Linked DNA regions of Homo sapiens: region 2 is linked to region 1. A link means that fine-mapping ties the variant in region 1 to the expression of a gene that starts in the linked region. Tissue or cell type: whole blood. Region 1 holds a variant in brackets; the other region holds the start of a gene. All regions are shown on one strand. Distances are from middle to middle.

Region 1 (9,698 bases):
CTCCAGGCACCCTGTGGCTGTAGTGGGGACCACGGGTGGCCTTGGATGCCTTCCTCCCCACACCCGGCACTGTGGACCCCACCCAACATGCTGTCCGGGCAGTGCTACCCAGCCTGGGTGTGTGTGCAGGCCGTACATGTACTCGGAGACAGGGGCGTTGGAGATGGTCTGGGCCGGGGGCTGCAGGCTGGTCTGACTTCCCAGGCCACTGCTGTAGCTGCAGAAGCTGTGAAGCTGTCCCCTCGGGGGACTGTGAGCCGCCATGCGCCAGGCTTGGGGGTTAAAGGGGTCATCATCATCAATGTCATCGTAGTCTCTGTTTCTAGAACAATGGGTAGAAGATGGCCGGCTGTGAAGGGTGAAGGAGGCTCCGAGGCAGCCAGGTCCTGTCCTACTTCCCTGCCTTTCCTCCCAGGACTCTCTGGCCACGCGTGTCTCCTTGAGACTCCTCTAAAACGCGGTCCCCAGCCTGCCTCCTGCAGATCATTCTGGCCCATTCCCAGCTTCACGACCAGCTCTTCCAGGCTCCCCACCACGCTGACCATGCGCATGTGGGTCCCCACTACCCTGCGTCCTCTTGCCTAATCCGCTCACCAGGTGCCTGTACACCATGTGTCCCTGCCCATCTCCTCAAGGGGACTGCAGGCTCCCTGAAAACAGTGACCCCATGTATCCTTCTTGCTATTCCTGGGGCACCCCTCCCAGCACCAAGAACTCTCCTCATTCCAGATCGCAAAGTCCTGGTGAGAAGAGAGGAGAAGGGAGGCCAGACTGTGGCCTGAGGGCTGTCACCACCCTGGGCCCCAGCTCTTGCTCTGGGCCCCACCGAACTCCTTTGGAGGGTCTGTGTGGACTCTTGGGGAAGCTTCTGTAGAAGTCAGCCAGCCTGTTGGGCTGAATGCCCGGGCCCTCTGCTGCCCTCCTCAGTCCTGGGTTATCAGCTAAATCGTAGAGCAGAGGCCCCTGTCTGCTGCTCTCCCAGAACTCCAGGCTGTGGGAGGCTCCCCTCCTTACTAGGCAGCCCACCTGGTGGTGAAGTGCTTCCAGGCCCTTGGCCCTGCACAGATCATGGTGGAGAAGGCGAGGGCGGCCAGGAAGGAGAAGAGGCCAAGGTACAGCAAGCCCTGGAGGCCGTCGTAGCAGATGCCAGCAAGAGCGTCCAGATAATCCTGGAGGAAGAGGAGGGACATGCAGCTAGTGAAGGAGCGGGGGCAAAGCCTGCGGGCCGAGCTCTCCTCTGGAAGTCCCTCTCCCCCGAGCCTGGACCTGGGGTCTCCTGGCTGCTCCCCATCCCGAGCGCCTTGCAGCACCATTAAAGGTCCACACTCTGGAGCCTAACACAATGGGGCTTCTTGGGTTCACGCTGGAAACATTTGCTGAGCACTTACTGTGAGCTGGGCACTAAGAAGCTGGCTCTGAACAGGGCGGAGGAGGTTGCAGGGTGGGGAACCAGAGACGGGGGCACTGAAGCTGAGGCCAGGATGGCAAGAAGCAGCACACCTTGAGAAGAGGGGGCAAAGGGGACAGGCTTGGCCTGTTCAGGAAAGAGAGAGAACATAGGCCAGCAGGGGCTGGGTCGTGCTGGGCCTTGCAATGCGGGAGAGGAGTACGGACTTTTAAAAGGAGTCAGAAAGACATTGGAGGGTGTGGGAGTGGAAGGGATGTGATCCAACCTAGTCTGCAAAAGGACTGCTCTGGTTGCATGTGTGAAAGCTCATGGGTGGTGAGGGGGCAAGAGAAAGTGGGAAGAGGCCACTGTCTGCTGGAGGGGCAGGACCGGATCGTGGTGGAAGCCATGGAGAGAAAGAGAAATGGATGGATTCAGGGTACAGCTGAGAGGAGAGCTGCCAAGACTTGCTGGGGATTAGATGTAGAAGGGGAAGAAGAGAGGAGACAGGGGTGACTGCCATGTTCTTAGCTCTGAGGTCAGACTACCAGGATCTAAACCCAAGCCCCTGATGTGCCAACTCGGGACTCTTCAGTAAGCCACTTTATAAATACACGCACACACACCCCCCACACACATGCACCCCCCACATGCACACACACATGCACCACACACACCACATACATGTGCACACATGTGCACACAACACACATGCACACACACCACACACATCACAGACATGCACACACCACACACACGCACACACCACACACCCCACACACACATACAGGCACATACACATGCACCACACACACGCATGCACAGCACACATGCGCACAAGCATGCACATACCACACACATACATACACACATCACATATGTGCACCCACACAACCGCAGAAACACACCACACACGCACAGACATATACACCACAAGTGCACACACACGCACACACACACAGACACACGCACGTGCACACACACATAGCTGTATCTATGGATCTATCCATACACACGCACAAGCAAGTCAATTTCCTAGGAAATAACGTGTGGTTCACAGTATAACTGTGAGAACTGAATGACATACTGGATATAAAATGCACAGAACAGGGCCAAGCATGGAGCTGACAGCTGTGATGATGACAAAGACTGTCTGCACTAAATCCATCTGGGATGTGAAAGCTGTCGCCATACACTGGCTCACTGCTTTTGGGTGGGGGGCTCTCACGTGCTCCCCATGTGTTCCCTGCATCATTGTGTCTGTCTGATATTCCAAGTTCCTGGAAAGAAGACTCTGGCAATGGGATTGGGACATCCACTTGCAACCCAGGGAGACAGATGTGTTGAGGAAATGGCTAGGAGTCTGGACAATGGGGAACAGCCTCCCTTGCATTGTTCAGGGTCCCCCAGTGACCCAGAGCCAACCGCATCCAACCCTCCCATCCCGAACCCCTGGTCCCTTGTACTGAGTCTCCCTGTCTCAGCCCCTGGAGAAGCCAGGCACCCCCTCCCTTCCCATTATCTGGCTTCAGTTCCATTCCTGGGCCGGAAGGGGACCCAGGCCATCGCTCCCCTCGGCCTCTACCGGCTTTTCTCTGGAAGGTGTGGCCTGCTGGGTGCCCTCACACTCTCCACGTGACCCCAGGGTCCCCATGCACCTTGTGCAGCCCTCGGCAGTCCACCATGGCGGTCAGCTGGTGAAGGCTGGACTCTGAGGAGTTCAGCAGGAGCTGGATTGCAAGCAGGTCTTCCTGAAGCGGGAAGAGAGCGAGAGAGGCCGAGGGGCTGTGGAGGAGAGCTGGCGGAGAAAACCACCACAGCAGCTGTGCTCAGGGGCCTCTAGAGCCAAGGGAGGGAGCCGAGTCACGGGGGCGGGAGAACAGAGAGCCAGCAGCAAGCTGTGCACAGCCTGGCCCTGGGGCCGGGGCAGGGGAAAGGGCTGTCAGGGTTCATCTGGGGCTCCCCTCTTCCTGCACAGCTGCCTTACCTCTGCAGTGGAGAAGAGGGGCACGGCAAACTGCAGCAGCCCCGCGACCTGGATCTGCATGGTGGTAAGTGCGCGCTGGAAGGTGGTCAGGGTCTGAGCCAGGAAAGACACAGCCCCACAGTGAGGCTCCGTCTCCCAGGAGCCCCACAGTGAGGCTCCGTCTCCCAGGAGCCCCACAGTGGCTGAGGGGCCTATGCTCCTGCCCCTCCCACCCCCCCACCTGGCTGCAGCTGCACAGGCCCCTCCACTTGCAGGAAGTCTCCCCCTACTCCTCTGGCTTCTTGAGAGCTGCACAGTCTTCTCCCTGCTTGCAGCTCAGATGTGGTCTTTGGACCAGCAGCCCTGGCCTCACCTGGGAGCTTGTGAGTAGTACAGAATCTCGGCCCCACCCCAGAGCTCCTGGACAGCATCTGCATGGGAACTAGCTCCCGCATTGAGCTGCATATGTGTTAACCACCAATCTAGAACCCACGACCAAAAGCACGCCCCCCTCACAGAAGCAGCTAAGGAGAGGACCACAGTGAGGCAAGCAAGGCCCTGCCACCTCCGCCATCTTGGTCAGTGGTGAGGCTTAGGGTCAAGGGGGAGCGGCTGTGGGCAGGGTGAGGGCAGGCCTCGGGGGGCCATACCTGCTGGAAGGGGCTGCTTCCACTCTGGCTGCAATACAGGTAGTAGCGAGTCACCTCTGCAGGGCAACGGCATAACGTTAGGCAGCTCACAAATGACCAGATGAGATCTCTATCATCCTTGGTGGCCAAGCCAGACCTCCCTCCCCGTCCCTGAGCTCCCAAGGGAGGCACTTTCTAGGAAATGGCCTAGAGCATGAGCTGGACTTGAAGTTCAGGGTTGAGGAGGGGTTGGATGGCTACAGGGCTGAAAGAGGTAAGTAGGGGCACAGAGTCCGGCCACCTATGCATCCACAGCAGCAGCCTGAGAGTGTGTAGTTACCTGTGCTGATCTGGCCCTCCGTGACGTTCAGGATGAAGGTGTCAGGAGCCACACAGAAGTCACTGGTGGCCTGAGTGAGGGAGAGAGGGACGGGGTGGAGGAAAATCAGGTATCAGGACAGCGGGGCCCTGGGAGGAGCCGGGAGCCCATCACCCCAGCCCCTTGAGCTCCCTCCCAGGTGGCAAAGGACAGTCTGGAGCCAGCCTCCTGGGTTCAAACCTGGCTCTGCCCCTTCCTAGCTCTGTTGCCTTGGACAAGTTACTTATTCTTCCTGTGCCCCGGTTGCCTCATCTGTGACATGGAGATGATAATGCTATTCACCCAATGCAAGTAAAGTGCTCAGAAAAGTGACTGGGGCAGAGCGCATGCTGTTACTCTTATTCCCGAATGCCTCTTCTGGGACAGACCTTTGGGGGCCAGCATCCTGGGCCCCAGGGCAGCTGCAGGCTGTGTGTGTGGGAGTTCGTTACACCATGGCCTCATCTGCTGTTTTACATTTTGTCTTGCTATGATCAAGTGCTACAGGGACGGGTGTTCAATCTATGAAGCCTCCCCCAAACTCTTTCTAAAGAATGAGGTTGGTGCTGAAGCATCTGTGAGCCTTGGGTGCAGGTGCTCACCTGCCAAGACATGGGGTGGGAAGGGCATGGAGCTGAGAGGCGGCTGCCACTTATGAGCTGGAGGACCTGGCCCCACAGCACGGCCTGGCTAAGTGATTGCTAAGGCCCATGCGGCAGGGTGGGAGCAGACGCAGGCCCCAGGAGAGGCGGCAGCAAGGACATGGCCTCCAAGCCAGGCGCACCCCAGATCTGGCCTGGGGTGCTCTAGGGACTGGATAAACTGGGGGGCCTCCGCCTTCCAGAGCAGCCAGGGAGAGCTCAGGTCCTCTGGCCTGTTCCTTAGGGATGTCCCCCTCCTCTGGCACATGCTCCCCGGGCAGGGGACCCCTCTGAGTGCCCTGCTCTGCCGGTGGCCCCGTCCTCCTTCAGGAGCCACTGCCTCAGGGGTCCACAATAGAGCATCACTCACTAACTTGCTAAGTTGATAGACATTTATGGAGTACTTACTCAGTGCCGTGCAGGGTTCTAGCACCTAGAGGTTAGTGCATCACAGCACTTACGGTCTAGAAAATGTGTGTATAGCGAGGGTGCGGAATAACACACCCCTCCAGATACAGAGCTTCCCGAGAGCCCCACATGCACGCACG[C/T]GCACACACACACACACGCATGCACGCACGCACGCACGCACTTAAGACCCTGGGAGAAATGCTTTATACACAAACCACCAGCATTCATAATACATCAACCTGGCCTATTATTACCTATCAGAGCTGCGGCGCCAGCAGGCCTGGTGGTGTGCCCCCACCCCCTGGCTGGAGTGACAGAGAGTGCAGCCAGGCCCAAGTGGAGGATGGGGAAGCCTTGGGGAAATAAAGAGCGAGGCCACCATCTCAGTTTGGGTCACCCCCAAGAAGTTTGGGAACCAAGAAAGGAGAGGGACAGGAGGCTCCAGTCCAAGGCTCCACAGTGACATGGTCTTCCTCCTGCCTCTCTCCTCCTTCCCCTCCCAGGCCAGGCCTGCTCTTCACACCCCTTGGCCACCCTGGAGCCTCCATCTCCTGGGATAGGTGCATAGGATGGTTTGGGGTGTGGGACTCAGTGAGGAGTCAACTCTCCTATTAATGAAGACAAGCACCTGTGTGCGTGTGCATGTATGTGTGTGATGCCCTTGTGTGTGTGCATGTCGAAATGGTCCACCCAGATCTCATCTTGAATTCCCACATGTTATGGGAGGGACCTGGTGGGAGGTAACTGAGTCACGGGGGCAAGTCTTTCTCACGCTGTTCTTTTGATAATGAATAAGTCTCACAAGACCTGATTTTTTTTTTTTTTTTTTTTTGAGACAGAGTCTCACTCTGTCGCCCAGGCTGGAGTGCAGTGGCGTGATCTTGGCTCACTGCAACGTCCACCTCCCGGGTTCAAGCAATCCTCCTGCCTCAGTCTCCCGAGTAGCTGAGATTATAGGAATGCACCACTATGCCTGGCTAATTTTGTATTTTTACTAGAGATGGGGTTCTGGCATGTTGGTCAGGCTGGTTTTGAACTCCTGACCTCAGGTGATCCCCCTGCCTCAGCCTCCCAAAGTGCTGGGATTACAGGTGTGAGCCACCACACCTGGCAGATCTGATGGTTTTAAAAACAGGAGTTTCCCTGCATACGTCCTCTCTCTTTGCCTGCTGCCATCCATGTAAGACGTGACTTGCTCCTCCTTGCCTTCCACCATGATTGTGGGGCTTCCTCAGCCATGTGGAACTGTGAGTCCAATCAAACCTCTTTCTTTTGTAAATTGCCCAGTCTTGGGTATGTCTTTATCAGCAGTGTGAAAATGGACTAATACACGTGTGCATTACTCATGCCATGGTGATAGGGATGGCAGGAGAGGGGACAGGAAGGAGGTCACTGAGCATAGTTGGGGCAGGTGGGAGAGGCTGCCCAGTAACCAGCCCAGGTGATGGCTGAGCCTGCAGGCAGCTCCTGAGAATGGAGGTGTGGGTCTGAAGGGACCCCCGTGACCCTAGCATGATGACGATGAATGCACAGGAAGCCAGTGGTGGCCACTGTTTATTGGACATTTTCTGTGTGCCTCCCAGGATGAACCCACTCATCTTTCCCTAGCAACAGCCCTTTGAGGTAAGTCCTGTTATTCTCTGTGTTCACCTAGGAGGAAGCTGAGGCACAGAAAACCTCAGGAACTTTCCTGGGTTTCCACTGCTGGGAAGGGGTGAAGGGAGGATGTGGGCCCAGACAGGGTGGCTGCAGAGGCCACACTCCCACCCTCTGACTCAGGGGCAGGCCTGGCTGCCCCTTAGCTGGAGGAATCCCCTGAAGTTCTCTGTCCCCAGGCTCGGTGGCCAAAGCACTTGTGACAGCCATTGCCTCCTCCCTCACAGCTGAACCCATTTCCTTCCCCTTCCTTCTTCCAGGGCTTCCCAGCCTCTCTGCCTGCTCTAGCCCCTCACCCCAGACACCTCCTGACTCGCAGTGCTGACCACGAGGGGTGGCCCCAGGGCCTGGAAGCTTGGAGCTCCGCTGCTCCCTCCTCTCCCTGCCTCACCCAGAGCAGATCTCCAGGGCAGTGCTCTGTCCTCATGGAGTCCTTTCTAGGGACAGGGAGGGGTAGGGGTCGGGGGTGGGGAAGGGAGGCCTTGTCAATCCTCTGGCCCCATGGCTGTCAAAACAGGCCTCAGAGAGCAGGGTGGCATTGGGAGGCCACACAAAAGCTCTCCACAACAACCCCGGGACAGCCGGCCGCCCTCCCCGCCCTCCTGGCTCCTCCTCACCCGGCTTCCTATTAAAATGCAGCAGCATCTCCAGCCCGTCAAAAGCCCATTCAGCTCCACCGCCTGCTCCCCATCTCGCACTCAGGGGCCTGACTAGAGGAATTAGGGAAATGGCCTTTCTCCCCAGCTCCCCGCATTCCAGGGCGCCCAGCTGGGAGATTAAATGGCCTCTGGTTTTCGTGAACACTGAAGCCTGGTGAGAGGGAGGAGCCCCCACTGGGAGGGGCGGCCACCACAGGGCAGCTCACAGCGGCAAGCTGGAAGCCACCGCTGCCTCCAGAAGGCAGAGGCTGCCCAGAAAGCGGGATGGGGCCCTGGAGGAGTTCGCCGTGTGCTCCCTGCAGCTTCCCTGTGCGTGGCCCTGGCCCCAGAGGAGAGGCTGGAGGCCAGGCAGCTGCCTGCATCACCCTGGCCAGCAGTGGCACTGTTTACAGCCGTCCCAGCTCCTGCATGCTTTCAAACATGACTTGGGCCTTTTCTCGACCATTCCTTGGTCCGTGGTCACTGCACTGGGGTGGCAGGAGGCAAAGACAGAAAATGCCCCCTCTTCTCCCTTCTGCACAAGCCTCTGCCTAAGGTGCTAAGTCAGGCAGTGCCAGAGTCCCTGAGGGCATTGTGTCCACGCCCAGAGCTAGTGGCCAGCCCCCAAGTCACTGGACGAGGTGTGAGTGTGGTTAGGGAGCTTCTTGTACAAGCCACCCCCATCTTATCCTATCAAGCCTCAGGTCACTATGGCAGAACAGATGCATGTCCCAGGGTTAGTCTGTGGACTTTGAATCAGTGAGGGGTTCCTTGAATTCCCCTGGTAAACTGTGTTCTCTTCTATCACGTGCATGTGCATGAACACACACACACAAACACACACACACACACACACACACACACTGCACCTCCACTGTATCAAAGCCTGGGGTTGCAGTGATCTGCCTATGAGTCTTGCTTCCAAAGGCTGGAACTTTGTCAACAGCAAACATCACGTCCTCTTGGCTTCCGCAACCCCAGGCAACTTGTACCATCGAGTGCCACCCAGCAAACAATGTCAGCTGAGTGAATGAACAGCCTCATGCACACAGCTTAGCGCCAGTGTTAGGTCCTTTAAAGATCATGTGGACCCGCATAGGAAGCCCCCAACTTTTTTTTTTTAAGCCATTTTGAGACATCACATCCAGAAACATACAGCATGTGTGCTTCAGACCGCGGGAGTCCTGGGACATTGGGATGGAAGGCAAGTCAGACACCACATTCTACAGTCCCAGGGCCTGGGGAGCTGGCAAAGCAGCAGCTTCTGATGCGGGAGGGATTCCCCAGTCTGAGGCTTGGACCCCTACCCATTCTCAGGAGACCCGGTCAGTTCTTCACACCCAGAGAGAAGCGCCCTGGTCACCCAGGCACGCCTAAGCCTAAGCACGTGTAAGCCTAAGCATGCCTGGGCAGCCGGGGGCTTCTCTCTGGGTATGAAGCATGAGTGTCTTATCCTGGCTCTGACCCTGGGCAGTCCCCTTCCTTTCTCTGGGCCTGTTTCCCCATCTGTAACGAGAGGGGCCGGTTCAGATGACGCAAGTCCCTTTGGTTCTGAGATTCTGGGATTCTAGGTTAGGAGCTGGGACCGGAAGCTGGCCCTGCTTGGAGACACACCAGAGTGTCCTGGCAGACCAACCACCACCCACCACCCACTCCCTCCCCCAACTCACCACTGCCGCAGAGCCATCAGCGGCCAGGGATGCCCAACTGAGGAGCAGGCTCAGTGCCCCACAGCACAGCATCCTAGGAGAGAGGCAGGCGACAACGTTGGCAGGCGGGGTCCCCTTCCTCTCAGCCATCACCCCACCCACCCTGCCCCCAGACCCTTGCAATGGATCCAAAGGCAGCCTCAGTCCCTGCCCTGACGTGGGCCCTGCTCACTACTAGGAAAGGACCATGGAGCCCAGGTCCTTGAGGCTAAAGAGACCCAGGCGTGAGAGCACAGGCTAAGGGGGCAGTGTTGGCTAAGACGGCCAGAGGCTTTCATGCACGGACCCATGTTTCTTAGCTGCTCA
Region 2 (8,592 bases), 35 kb after region 1:
ATGGACAGAGCTTTGCCAAGACAATTTCCCACGCCTCCCCACGCCTCCCACTGTGCCCTGCAGCCACCTCCTTGTCCCACAGCAACACCAGGCCCCCAGCTCCCACACTGGTGCTCAGACTCTGCCTCTCCCCTCATCAAAGGGACTTCAATTATTTCTGATTTGTCACTGTGTCATGAAAAACCCAGAGCGGAGAGTGCCAAGCTGGGACCCAAGTTGGGGGCCGCAGTGACCATGGCAGCGGGACCCAAGGGGCTTCTGCACTGGGCAGGGGAGGGGGCAACAGCCCTGGCCCCAGAAGACATAGAGAGAGGTGTGCCGGTCTCAGGGGGAGGCTGGGAGAGGGAAACTAGGAGCACCTAGAGGGAGAGTCTCCCTCCCAGGCCCACTGGGAAAGATTAAGCCCTCTCCCAGGCGCGGCATGACTGTCTGATGACCGTGACTCAATTTCACACTGGATGAATGGGGCTTCCTCATCCCAACCTCAGCTCTTCTCAGATCTCGGCTGGGATGGGCTTGCTGCCTGGTCCTTCTTCCTCAGACCTGCCCCCAGGTCAGAAGCAGGAAGTCCTGTAGTTCCGGTCCAGTCCCCAACTGTGTACCCTCCACTTTGTACTTTGGCGAATCTATGAACGGAACCAACCAATGAGAGAACACGTGGAAATACATGCCTAAATACAAAAAAAATTAACAACATCTCCTCTGCCTCCTAACACATGTCCCCAAAGAGCAGCTGGTCGGCTGATCCTGGGCAAGGGAAGCTGGAACAGGAAGCACACATGTGGCCACCTGCCTGTTGACAGTAGCAATAACTAACATTTGCACAGCCTTTGGGAGCTTACTAAGATGTTTCAAGAACTGAGCTCATCAGTGTCTGGTCTCCCCTGAGGGGCTGGCTGGATGGTGATGGTGGCACTCACGCTCAGGCAGGGACACCGAAGTGCCTCGTTCATTTGCTCAGAGAGACATTGCTGGATTCAGTGCCAGGTGCCCATTCCCTTCTCCCCAACACTGCCCAGTGGACACCGGCTGGCTGCAGTCTTCTCCTTCCTAAGCAGTGATTGTAGCAGTTTCCAGTGTGCCAGGCACTGGCCACAGGCTTCATAATCCATGAACTCATTAGTTCTTTTATCATCTCTTTAGAGTAGGAATCGTCTCCAAATCCAATCCCCCTCATCTGTCAAAGGTGAGAAGACTTGGGCTGCAGGTCTAGGCTGATTTCCTTCCAGACATACAGCCACATCTGGCAGCCCAGAGCTGGGTGCCCGCCAGGGCCAAGGTGCCCTCGTCCACAGCCCTGCCTTGGTGCTCACCTCTCATGCCTCTACTCACTGGAGGGTAGCCTCCCCACAAGGCTGGTGACACAGGCCAAGTGGCCTTTGCGAGGACTTGGGCTCAAGTTCACTGGGGGGAGAGGGGTGAGGATCAACTATCAGGAGGACTGGGGGCTTTCACGGCTCCCAAACACCCCAGAAAGTGAGTGAGAGCCCCTACTTCCTCAGGAAGGTTCTGGAACACTGAACTTGCTCAGGAAATCCCAGCTCACCAGGTGACCTGCTCTTCACCATCTCTGCACTTCCAAGAACCCCCTTGCCTTTGAGATCCCCCGCACCACCCACATCCTAAGGCCAGCACCTGCCTGTTTCCATCCTTGCTTAGTCTCTGATGCACACGCACCCACCCCCCACACCCCACACAGCCAGCACTGTGCATTTGAACATGTGGGGCATGAGCTGAAGCCCTTTCTGCAGGCGTTTTGTTCAGTCTCCCCCAATCAGAGTCTGTGGAAGAGATCTCCTTCCTCTCCATTCCCCAGCAGGGTACTGTCCTGAGACACACTCCTGAACCTCTCAGCCACTCCATTGAATGATCTGTGTCACTGGCTCCTGTTATGTGCTATGGGACTCTCTGTACTAGGCATGATATGTGGAATATCTCATCTAATTCTTGCAGATGAAGGGAACAAGGCTCAGAGAGGTTAAGACACCTACCCGTGGTCACACATGGAAAGAACTGGGAATCCACCCCAGCCAACTGGAGGGCAGAGCCCCACCTCAAACTGCTTGGTGTCTGCCATAGCACTGCGCCCAGAGCCCAGCCGCAGAAAATCCCCAGCAATTTCTCCTGAAGACCTGCTGCCTTGGTTACCACGGTCACCCCACGCCTGGCATAGCACTTGCTCCAGTCAAGCTTGCTGAAGACTGGGATGACCGACGGTCCACCTGACTCTGTTAGTGACTGGTGCTCAGGAGGAAAGAAGACATCCAGGAGAGACCTGTGGTCACAACAGGGGAACTTACCAAAAACAGGAGCCACCTTAAATAACACCCAGAGCCAGACTTCCGGTCCTGGCCCACCACGCTCATCTCCTACTCAGCGATCTGAGTGGTGGTGAGGGGGTGAGCGGGACCAGGAGCCAGTGGGCAGGGCTGGTGTCAGCTGCCCAGGAGCAGTGGCCGATGGGAAGGGACACCCTCTGGAACCATTTGATGCCCAGCACAAAGTGAGCCGGGGCCAGAATCCTGGGAGGAGGGGCAGAGGCTGGAGGTAGGTTCATCTGGCTCAACTGCCACCTGCCCATGGGACTGAGGGGGCTGTGGGCAGGCCCAGGATCCACCAGCCACAGCTGTTGGGCTGATAGGAACTGTCTCTGGGGCCATCAGGGTGAGGGAGTCCCCTTACCATCCCTACCCCCACCTAGGGGTCTTCTTGACCCAATGAAAAGTTTAGATTTCCTCCAGTGGAGAGGAGAAAACTATGGCTGGAGACCCCGGGTGTGGGATGTGGGGCACAGGGTTTGGGATGGGGACACACACACACACACACACACACACACACACACGGCTGTTTCTGAAATCATATCCGCCTCTTTTCATGCATTCTCTGGGAGAGGAAGATTCCCTGGAGCTATCCCCAGGCAGCCACATTCTCAGGGAACACAGACTCCCACAGGCTGGGCTCTGGGGGAGGGGGGTGGGTCCACCGACTGCCGTCTTGCTCCTGAGTGCCCACTGAACCCCAGGAAGGGGTCCTGATGCTCCCCTCCCTCTGGTAGGGCAGGCACCATCTGCCTGGGCCTGATGGCAGCCGGGTCGTCAGGGGTTATTATTAGACTCCCTGTCACTGGCGCTTGGGCACCTCACACTGGATCAGGATTCCCTCCAAGAGGCCCTGCTTTGCCCTGATCTGTCCCATATCTGGAGAACTTGACACAGGGAGAGGCCGCCGGGGGCCAAAGTCCTGAGATGGGCGCCTGGCTCTGAATAAATGGACCTCATCCTGGTCCACTGGCCCCAGAATCTTTGACCCAACACAAGGAACTGATACAGGTGGGCTCCCGGGGCCAGAGCAGGCGTGACCAGACCTGAGACGGGCTGGGAGATTCTGCAGCTTTGTTTGTCTGGGCAGGGAGGTCTGGGGAGCCCTGGCCCTGTTTGTGGGGTGCAGAATCCTGCCAAGGGTCAGCAGAGTAGGGAAAGGGCGGGGAAGCCGGGAGTGACTGCCCTAGGCCAGAAATTCAGGGCTTAAAGGTGTGAGGTAGAGAGAGGGGCGTGGGGGAACAGGAATGGGCCAGTCTAGGACCAGGGGACACAGAGAAGCTGACTGTCAATGCAAGGGGGTCCTCAGGACAACAGTGTGAGATGGGCTGACGGAGGCCACCTTCCTTCCCTGGAACAAGCGCAAGCAGCTGTGGGTTCTCTGCGCTAGAGGGGAAGTGACCCACACCGCTTCCCCAAGCCCTGCAGCCTTCCAGCTGAGACTCCCACCCTGCAGGCCGGGGCTGGGGAGGAGGGGTGCTGCGAAGACCGACTCGGGAGACTCTACTCAGTTTCTGCCAAACTTTCCTAGGCCACTCAGCCCCGGAAAGAGAGCGCCCCATCTTGGAATCTCAGACGGTCGAAAACTTCGGGGCACCCCTCAGCATCCCCGCACCTCGCGCGCCAGGATTACCCCGAGACGAATGCCCCTGTCCTTACCCCTCCCCCGCGCCGCCCTGCCCGCTCAGCGTTCAGCCCCTCACCCCGCAGGCGGTCTTGCGCCCTTCCTCCCCTTCCCCACGCTCGCTTCACTCTGATCTCTTCAGTTTTCCCGGCCCCCAGGTTCCCAGACAGGAGGGGACGCGGGCCACGGGCCTGGGAGGGTGGGGGAAAAGGGGAGAGGGGAGACGGGAAAGGGCTGCGCGGGGAGAGAAGGGGTCTGAGAGGCACGTGGGAAAGTGCAGGCTCTCGAGGGGAGAGGGGGTAGTGCGGGGACTTGGGGCGCGCGTGGCTGCGGTCTGGGGCGGCGTAAACTTACCTCCTGGTAACTCTCGTCGCCGGGGCTGAAGGTGCTGTTCACGGGCTGCAGGCGCAGGCCGACGTGCGGGACGCTGTGCAGCCACACGACCCACCAGGGAGCGATGTAGTCCACGCGCGCCGCCTGCATGGCTCGGCCCGAGTGCTACCCACAAGCTGAACGACAGCTGCGCTCACCTCCCGGCCGGGGCCCCGTGCCCGCCCCGCCCCCGGCCCCGCCTCTCCCTGGGCCCGCGCCCGCCCCGCCCCGCCGCGATCCCAGTCCCAGTTCTGGGCGCGCAGCCCGCTGCAGTCAACAGCCCCTTTCTGGGCGGGGATCTGTCCTGGCCGGATGGGAGGAGGGAAGTGAAAAAAGCTCCCAGAAGTCTCTAAATCAGTTTCAGTCTCGAGGTCCCCGGGCTGCTTCTTATTTATGATCAGATCAAGGGTATAAGGTGTCAGTGGGGGCAGCCAGCAGTCATAGGCCAGAGAGGGGCGACTGCCCGTCCCAAGGGCTTGTCACAGGGTAAGTAACCGACAGACTGGGAAAGGAAGGAGGCAATCTTCAGCCACTCGGTCACTCATTCTAAATTCACTCTCATTTTTTGGGCATCTATTGTGCAAGCCCTGTGGACTTAAAAAGAGAAATAAGACGCCGTCCCTGCCCTCGGGAGCTCCCGGCGCATCTGCCCCAACAACTCGCTGAAGCCGCCTGCAGGACGCCTGAGTGAGGACAAGGTGTCTCACTCAGAAAATTTGCTTGATTCTTCCTGGCAAGTGGGACAGGGTGAGCTTCCCGGAGGAGGGGACCTTCGAGCTGTGTAGCGGGGAAGGTAGGAGAGCGATGAGAGCGCCCGGAAGGGACAAGCATTCGGGGAGACTGAAGCGCATTCAACAACATATTTATTGAGCACCTACTACGTCCAGGCACTGTTACATCGGTGATGTAACAAAAGCCGACAAAAACCCTCACCCCGAGCGCAGGCACCGCAGAGGGCGATGACGACCCGAGAAGATGCCGAACGCAGGCCAGGAGGGGGCTCTGGGGAAAAGCAAAGGCAGGGGAGGTTGCCCATCGGGGAGCCTCGCGTCCCTGGGCCCTCCGTACTCTGCACATATGCAGAGGCCCCCACCCGTCCTGTAACCGCAAACTGCTTGGCGTGACTTGGCCAGCGGAGGGAGGAGCCCAGGCTGCAGGACAAGCAGGAGTCAGGGGTAGGTGCGGTGGAGTGATGGGGTCGCGGCAGATTGGGCGTGGAAACCGCGCTGGGCAGCCAGCCTGAGGGGTGCGTATCCACCGCGGCAGGGACGCGGGTGAGAAAGGAGCCCCGGGAGGACGGGGCGGGGCTCCTAGGGTTCTGGCTGAAGGGACCGGGTGGATGCGGACCGACTGAAAACGCTCGCAAACACATATGGCTGCTGGGGAGTGGGGCCCCAGTCACCCGGTGCTCAAAGGCCCTGTGTCCATTAGAGGAAGTCCTGGCCTCGGGGCCTCTCCTCGTGGCCGTGATCCCACGGTTCTGGGGCCCTGCAGGAGCCCAAAGCTGAGGGGCCCGGAAGGCTGGAAACAGCCATTCTTCTCTCATTGGGGTGTCTTTCAACAAATTTTCTTGAGCACGTTCTCTGTTCTAGAGGATACAGTAATGGATAAAACACACGTTCCCGCCTGCATGGCGTCTACAGCCTAGTAGGCGAGGTGAGGTGGACTTGTATCCTGCAAACAGCGATTGCAGGCCTTGTGAAATGTCAGAGTCCCTGCTGTAGGGAGAGGGGATGGAAGGTGGGCGTCAGGGTTGTTTCCCAAAGGACAGTGACATGAGCTGAAGGATGATCGGGAGTCAAAGAGGGGGGTGCTGGGGGAGGCCTCTGTGCAGAAGGAACAGGACCCTGTGAGATCAGGGACTAAGGCCAGTGGAAGGGGAAGCAAGCAAGTTCCAGAACAGGACAGGGAGCCGGAGAACTGCAGGAGCCAGGCGATCAGCTTGGAGACTGCGGCAGGGGAGGGAACTTCTTTGGGTGAAAACCTCCTTTTAAAAGGTCTTGGTCTCTGACTCAGTCCCTGCAGTTGCTGGGGAAAGTGGACTCTTCTGGTAGCTGCTTTTACAGCCCCTGCCCTCAGAGGCCCCCCAGGTGGGAAGGGCCTGCCTCCTAGGCAGTGGGTGGTCACCGAGGACTGACTTTGAACCCGGGGCAAGGGAGCCCCAGAAGGCTGGAGGCCTGCACACGGCACTGGAAGAAACAAACTGCAAAGGCTGTCCCTCAGGGCTATCTCCACAGCCACCGGAATGCGGCCTGGAATATCCAAACCTGTCAGCCCACCTGCACCCAGCCAGACAGCGACCATTCTAGCTGCTTCCCCGGAGGCCTGCTGACCCAGAGAGGTGTCAAAAAGCTGAAGCACAACAGACAGACCTCCCACAGACTCAGCAGGGAGTTGGAGGACAGTCGGCACACCAGCAGCTGTAGCCCATCACCTCCCCCCTCCCCATTCACCTGGTATGCAGCACTTAAGGGCTTGCTGAAGCCCCAGCAAAGCAGAGGCCCACCTGAGAGCTTGGAAACACACCTATGCCCCAGACCACCGCAATCGCAATCTCCAGTCAGCCCTGGCCACCACAGTGAACTGCCTAAGTGCCCCAGATGACTGAGTCACAAGCCAGGGCTGGGAAGCACTGCATGAAAGGCGGCCTTCTCTAGACAAGGCTGGACACACCCCTGCAAGGCCTGTCTCCTAGGAGCTGGGATGAAACTCTGGACGATGTGCTGGGAACAAAGAAAACCCACATGGTAAAGGCTCGCTTTTCCTTGGGAATCTGCAATGCTTACAGAACGGGAAAGGCTGAAAGCCGCCCACAGTGCCGCACCTGGGCCTGAGGGCTGGTGTACCCACCCTCTCCCGGAGGAAACAAGACCCGTGACCAGACTCAAAACCACCTCACACCCTCACAATCCTTACAGAATATTCAAAGACTGGCACTTCAACCTTACAACCTGAGCACGTCTAAATGCCTAACACAATACCAAGCACACTGTATGCCACGCTTTTAAAAGGTAGAGATCTTAAAAAAACAAAAAACACTACCTCGGGTATGAAGACAGATTTTATGATGCCAGTCATTTCCAGAGGGGCTGCCCGCTGTGGCACAGCACCACCTGGTGGCCACCCCAACCCATGCACCTCCCCCCATCCCAGTACCCTGACAGCAAGCCAATGAAAGAGGTGTTAATATGGCTATTTTCCAACTGAGGAAACAGGCAAAAGTGTAGTCATTTCTCCAAGTCAGTCAAGTTAGCGAGTGGTAGATGTGCTATACCTTGTTGCACCCATTTTGGGACCTGTTTGAATGGCATGCCCCACCATCGCTCCCACATCTGCCAGTTATGTTTAACCCCACGTGCTATTTCCATCATGGCCTCCCCACATCTTATTTTCAAACAGGCTGAAAACAGATGGCCTCATTTGCCGACTGAGATCATGCTCAAGATTAGGGATGCACCGGGCACGGAGGCTCATGCCTGTAATCCCAGCACTATGGGAGGCTGAGGCAGGCAGTGAAACCCTGTCTCTACTACAAATACAAAAATTGGCCAGGCGTGGTGATGTGTGCCTGTAATCCCAGCCACTCGGGAGGCTGAGGCAGGACAGTCGCTTGAACCCAGGAGGCGGAGGTGGTAGTGAGCTGATATCGCACCACTGTGCTCCAGGATGAGCCACAGAGCAAGACTCCGTCTCAAAGAAAGAAAAAAAAAAAAAAAAAAAGACACAGGAAGGCAGCAACAGAACCCGCGTCCTGTTCCCATCAGAAGCCACTACGAGGTAGCATTTTTCCCTTTCCCATCCGCAAAGACGAAAGACACTTAGGATTTTTAGTATTTTAATATAATACAGTTCCAATCAGTGTGTCTGGTTCATTTCAGTTCCTTCACTGCCAAACCTAGAGGGAAAGAGACAAAAGTAAGCCATCCAGAAGACACATCTGAGTTGCTGCTGCTTGTCTAAATTTTGTACTTAAGCTAAAGAGAGCACACAAGGTTCAGAAATTAGATCCACCAGCGAAGTTTCGGTTAAAATATTTAGTGTTTGATAAAAAGACTTGGTCTATTATATTCGATAAAAAGACTTGGTCTATTATATTTCATCTGTTCCCCTGTAAAAAATGGGGACTATCAGTACTAGCACCAACCTCGAAGGGTCGTGAACAGGATTAAATGAGCTCTAACCGCTCTTCTGGCTAAGGAAATGATTTCTGGTACTGTATATAATCTGAGAATCACAACTATTCCTCACACTCCCAACAGCAAGAGCAGATTCTTAGAC

The links. PIP is the estimated chance that this variant, and not a neighbour inherited with it, causes the effect.
Region 2: TTYH2 starts here. The variant in region 1 is fine-mapped to the expression of TTYH2 in whole blood (INTERVAL, PIP 0.99).

Annotation. Positions count from the first base shown.
Region 1 is chr17:74,243,705-74,253,402 of GRCh38, reverse strand. It overlaps TTYH2 (tweety family member 2), which reads right to left. Exons shown (of 14, transcript NM_032646.6): 6 at 9,354-9,426; 7 at 4,323-4,392; 8 at 4,004-4,059; 9 at 3,375-3,467; 10 at 3,046-3,138; 11 at 1,027-1,169; 12 at 137-322. Among named protein-coding and RNA genes, the nearest start is that of DNAI2, 26 kb to the left of the region's middle. RefSeq lists an enhancer at 7,627-8,521. The variant C/T (reference allele first, on the strand shown) is at 5,530.
Region 2 is chr17:74,209,421-74,218,012 of GRCh38, reverse strand. TTYH2 (tweety family member 2) reads right to left here and starts at 4,442. Exons shown (of 14, transcript NM_032646.6): 1 at 4,297-4,442. The coding sequence starts at 4,425. RPL38 (ribosomal protein L38) reads right to left here. Exons shown (of 5, transcript NM_000999.4): 5 at 7,358-8,209. The coding sequence ends at 8,184. MGC16275 (a long non-coding RNA gene) reads left to right here and starts at 4,692. Exons shown (of 2, transcript NR_026914.1): 1 at 4,692-5,489; 2 at 6,331-8,033. RefSeq lists enhancers at 2,098-2,147, 7,471-7,520 and a silencer at 4,406-4,565.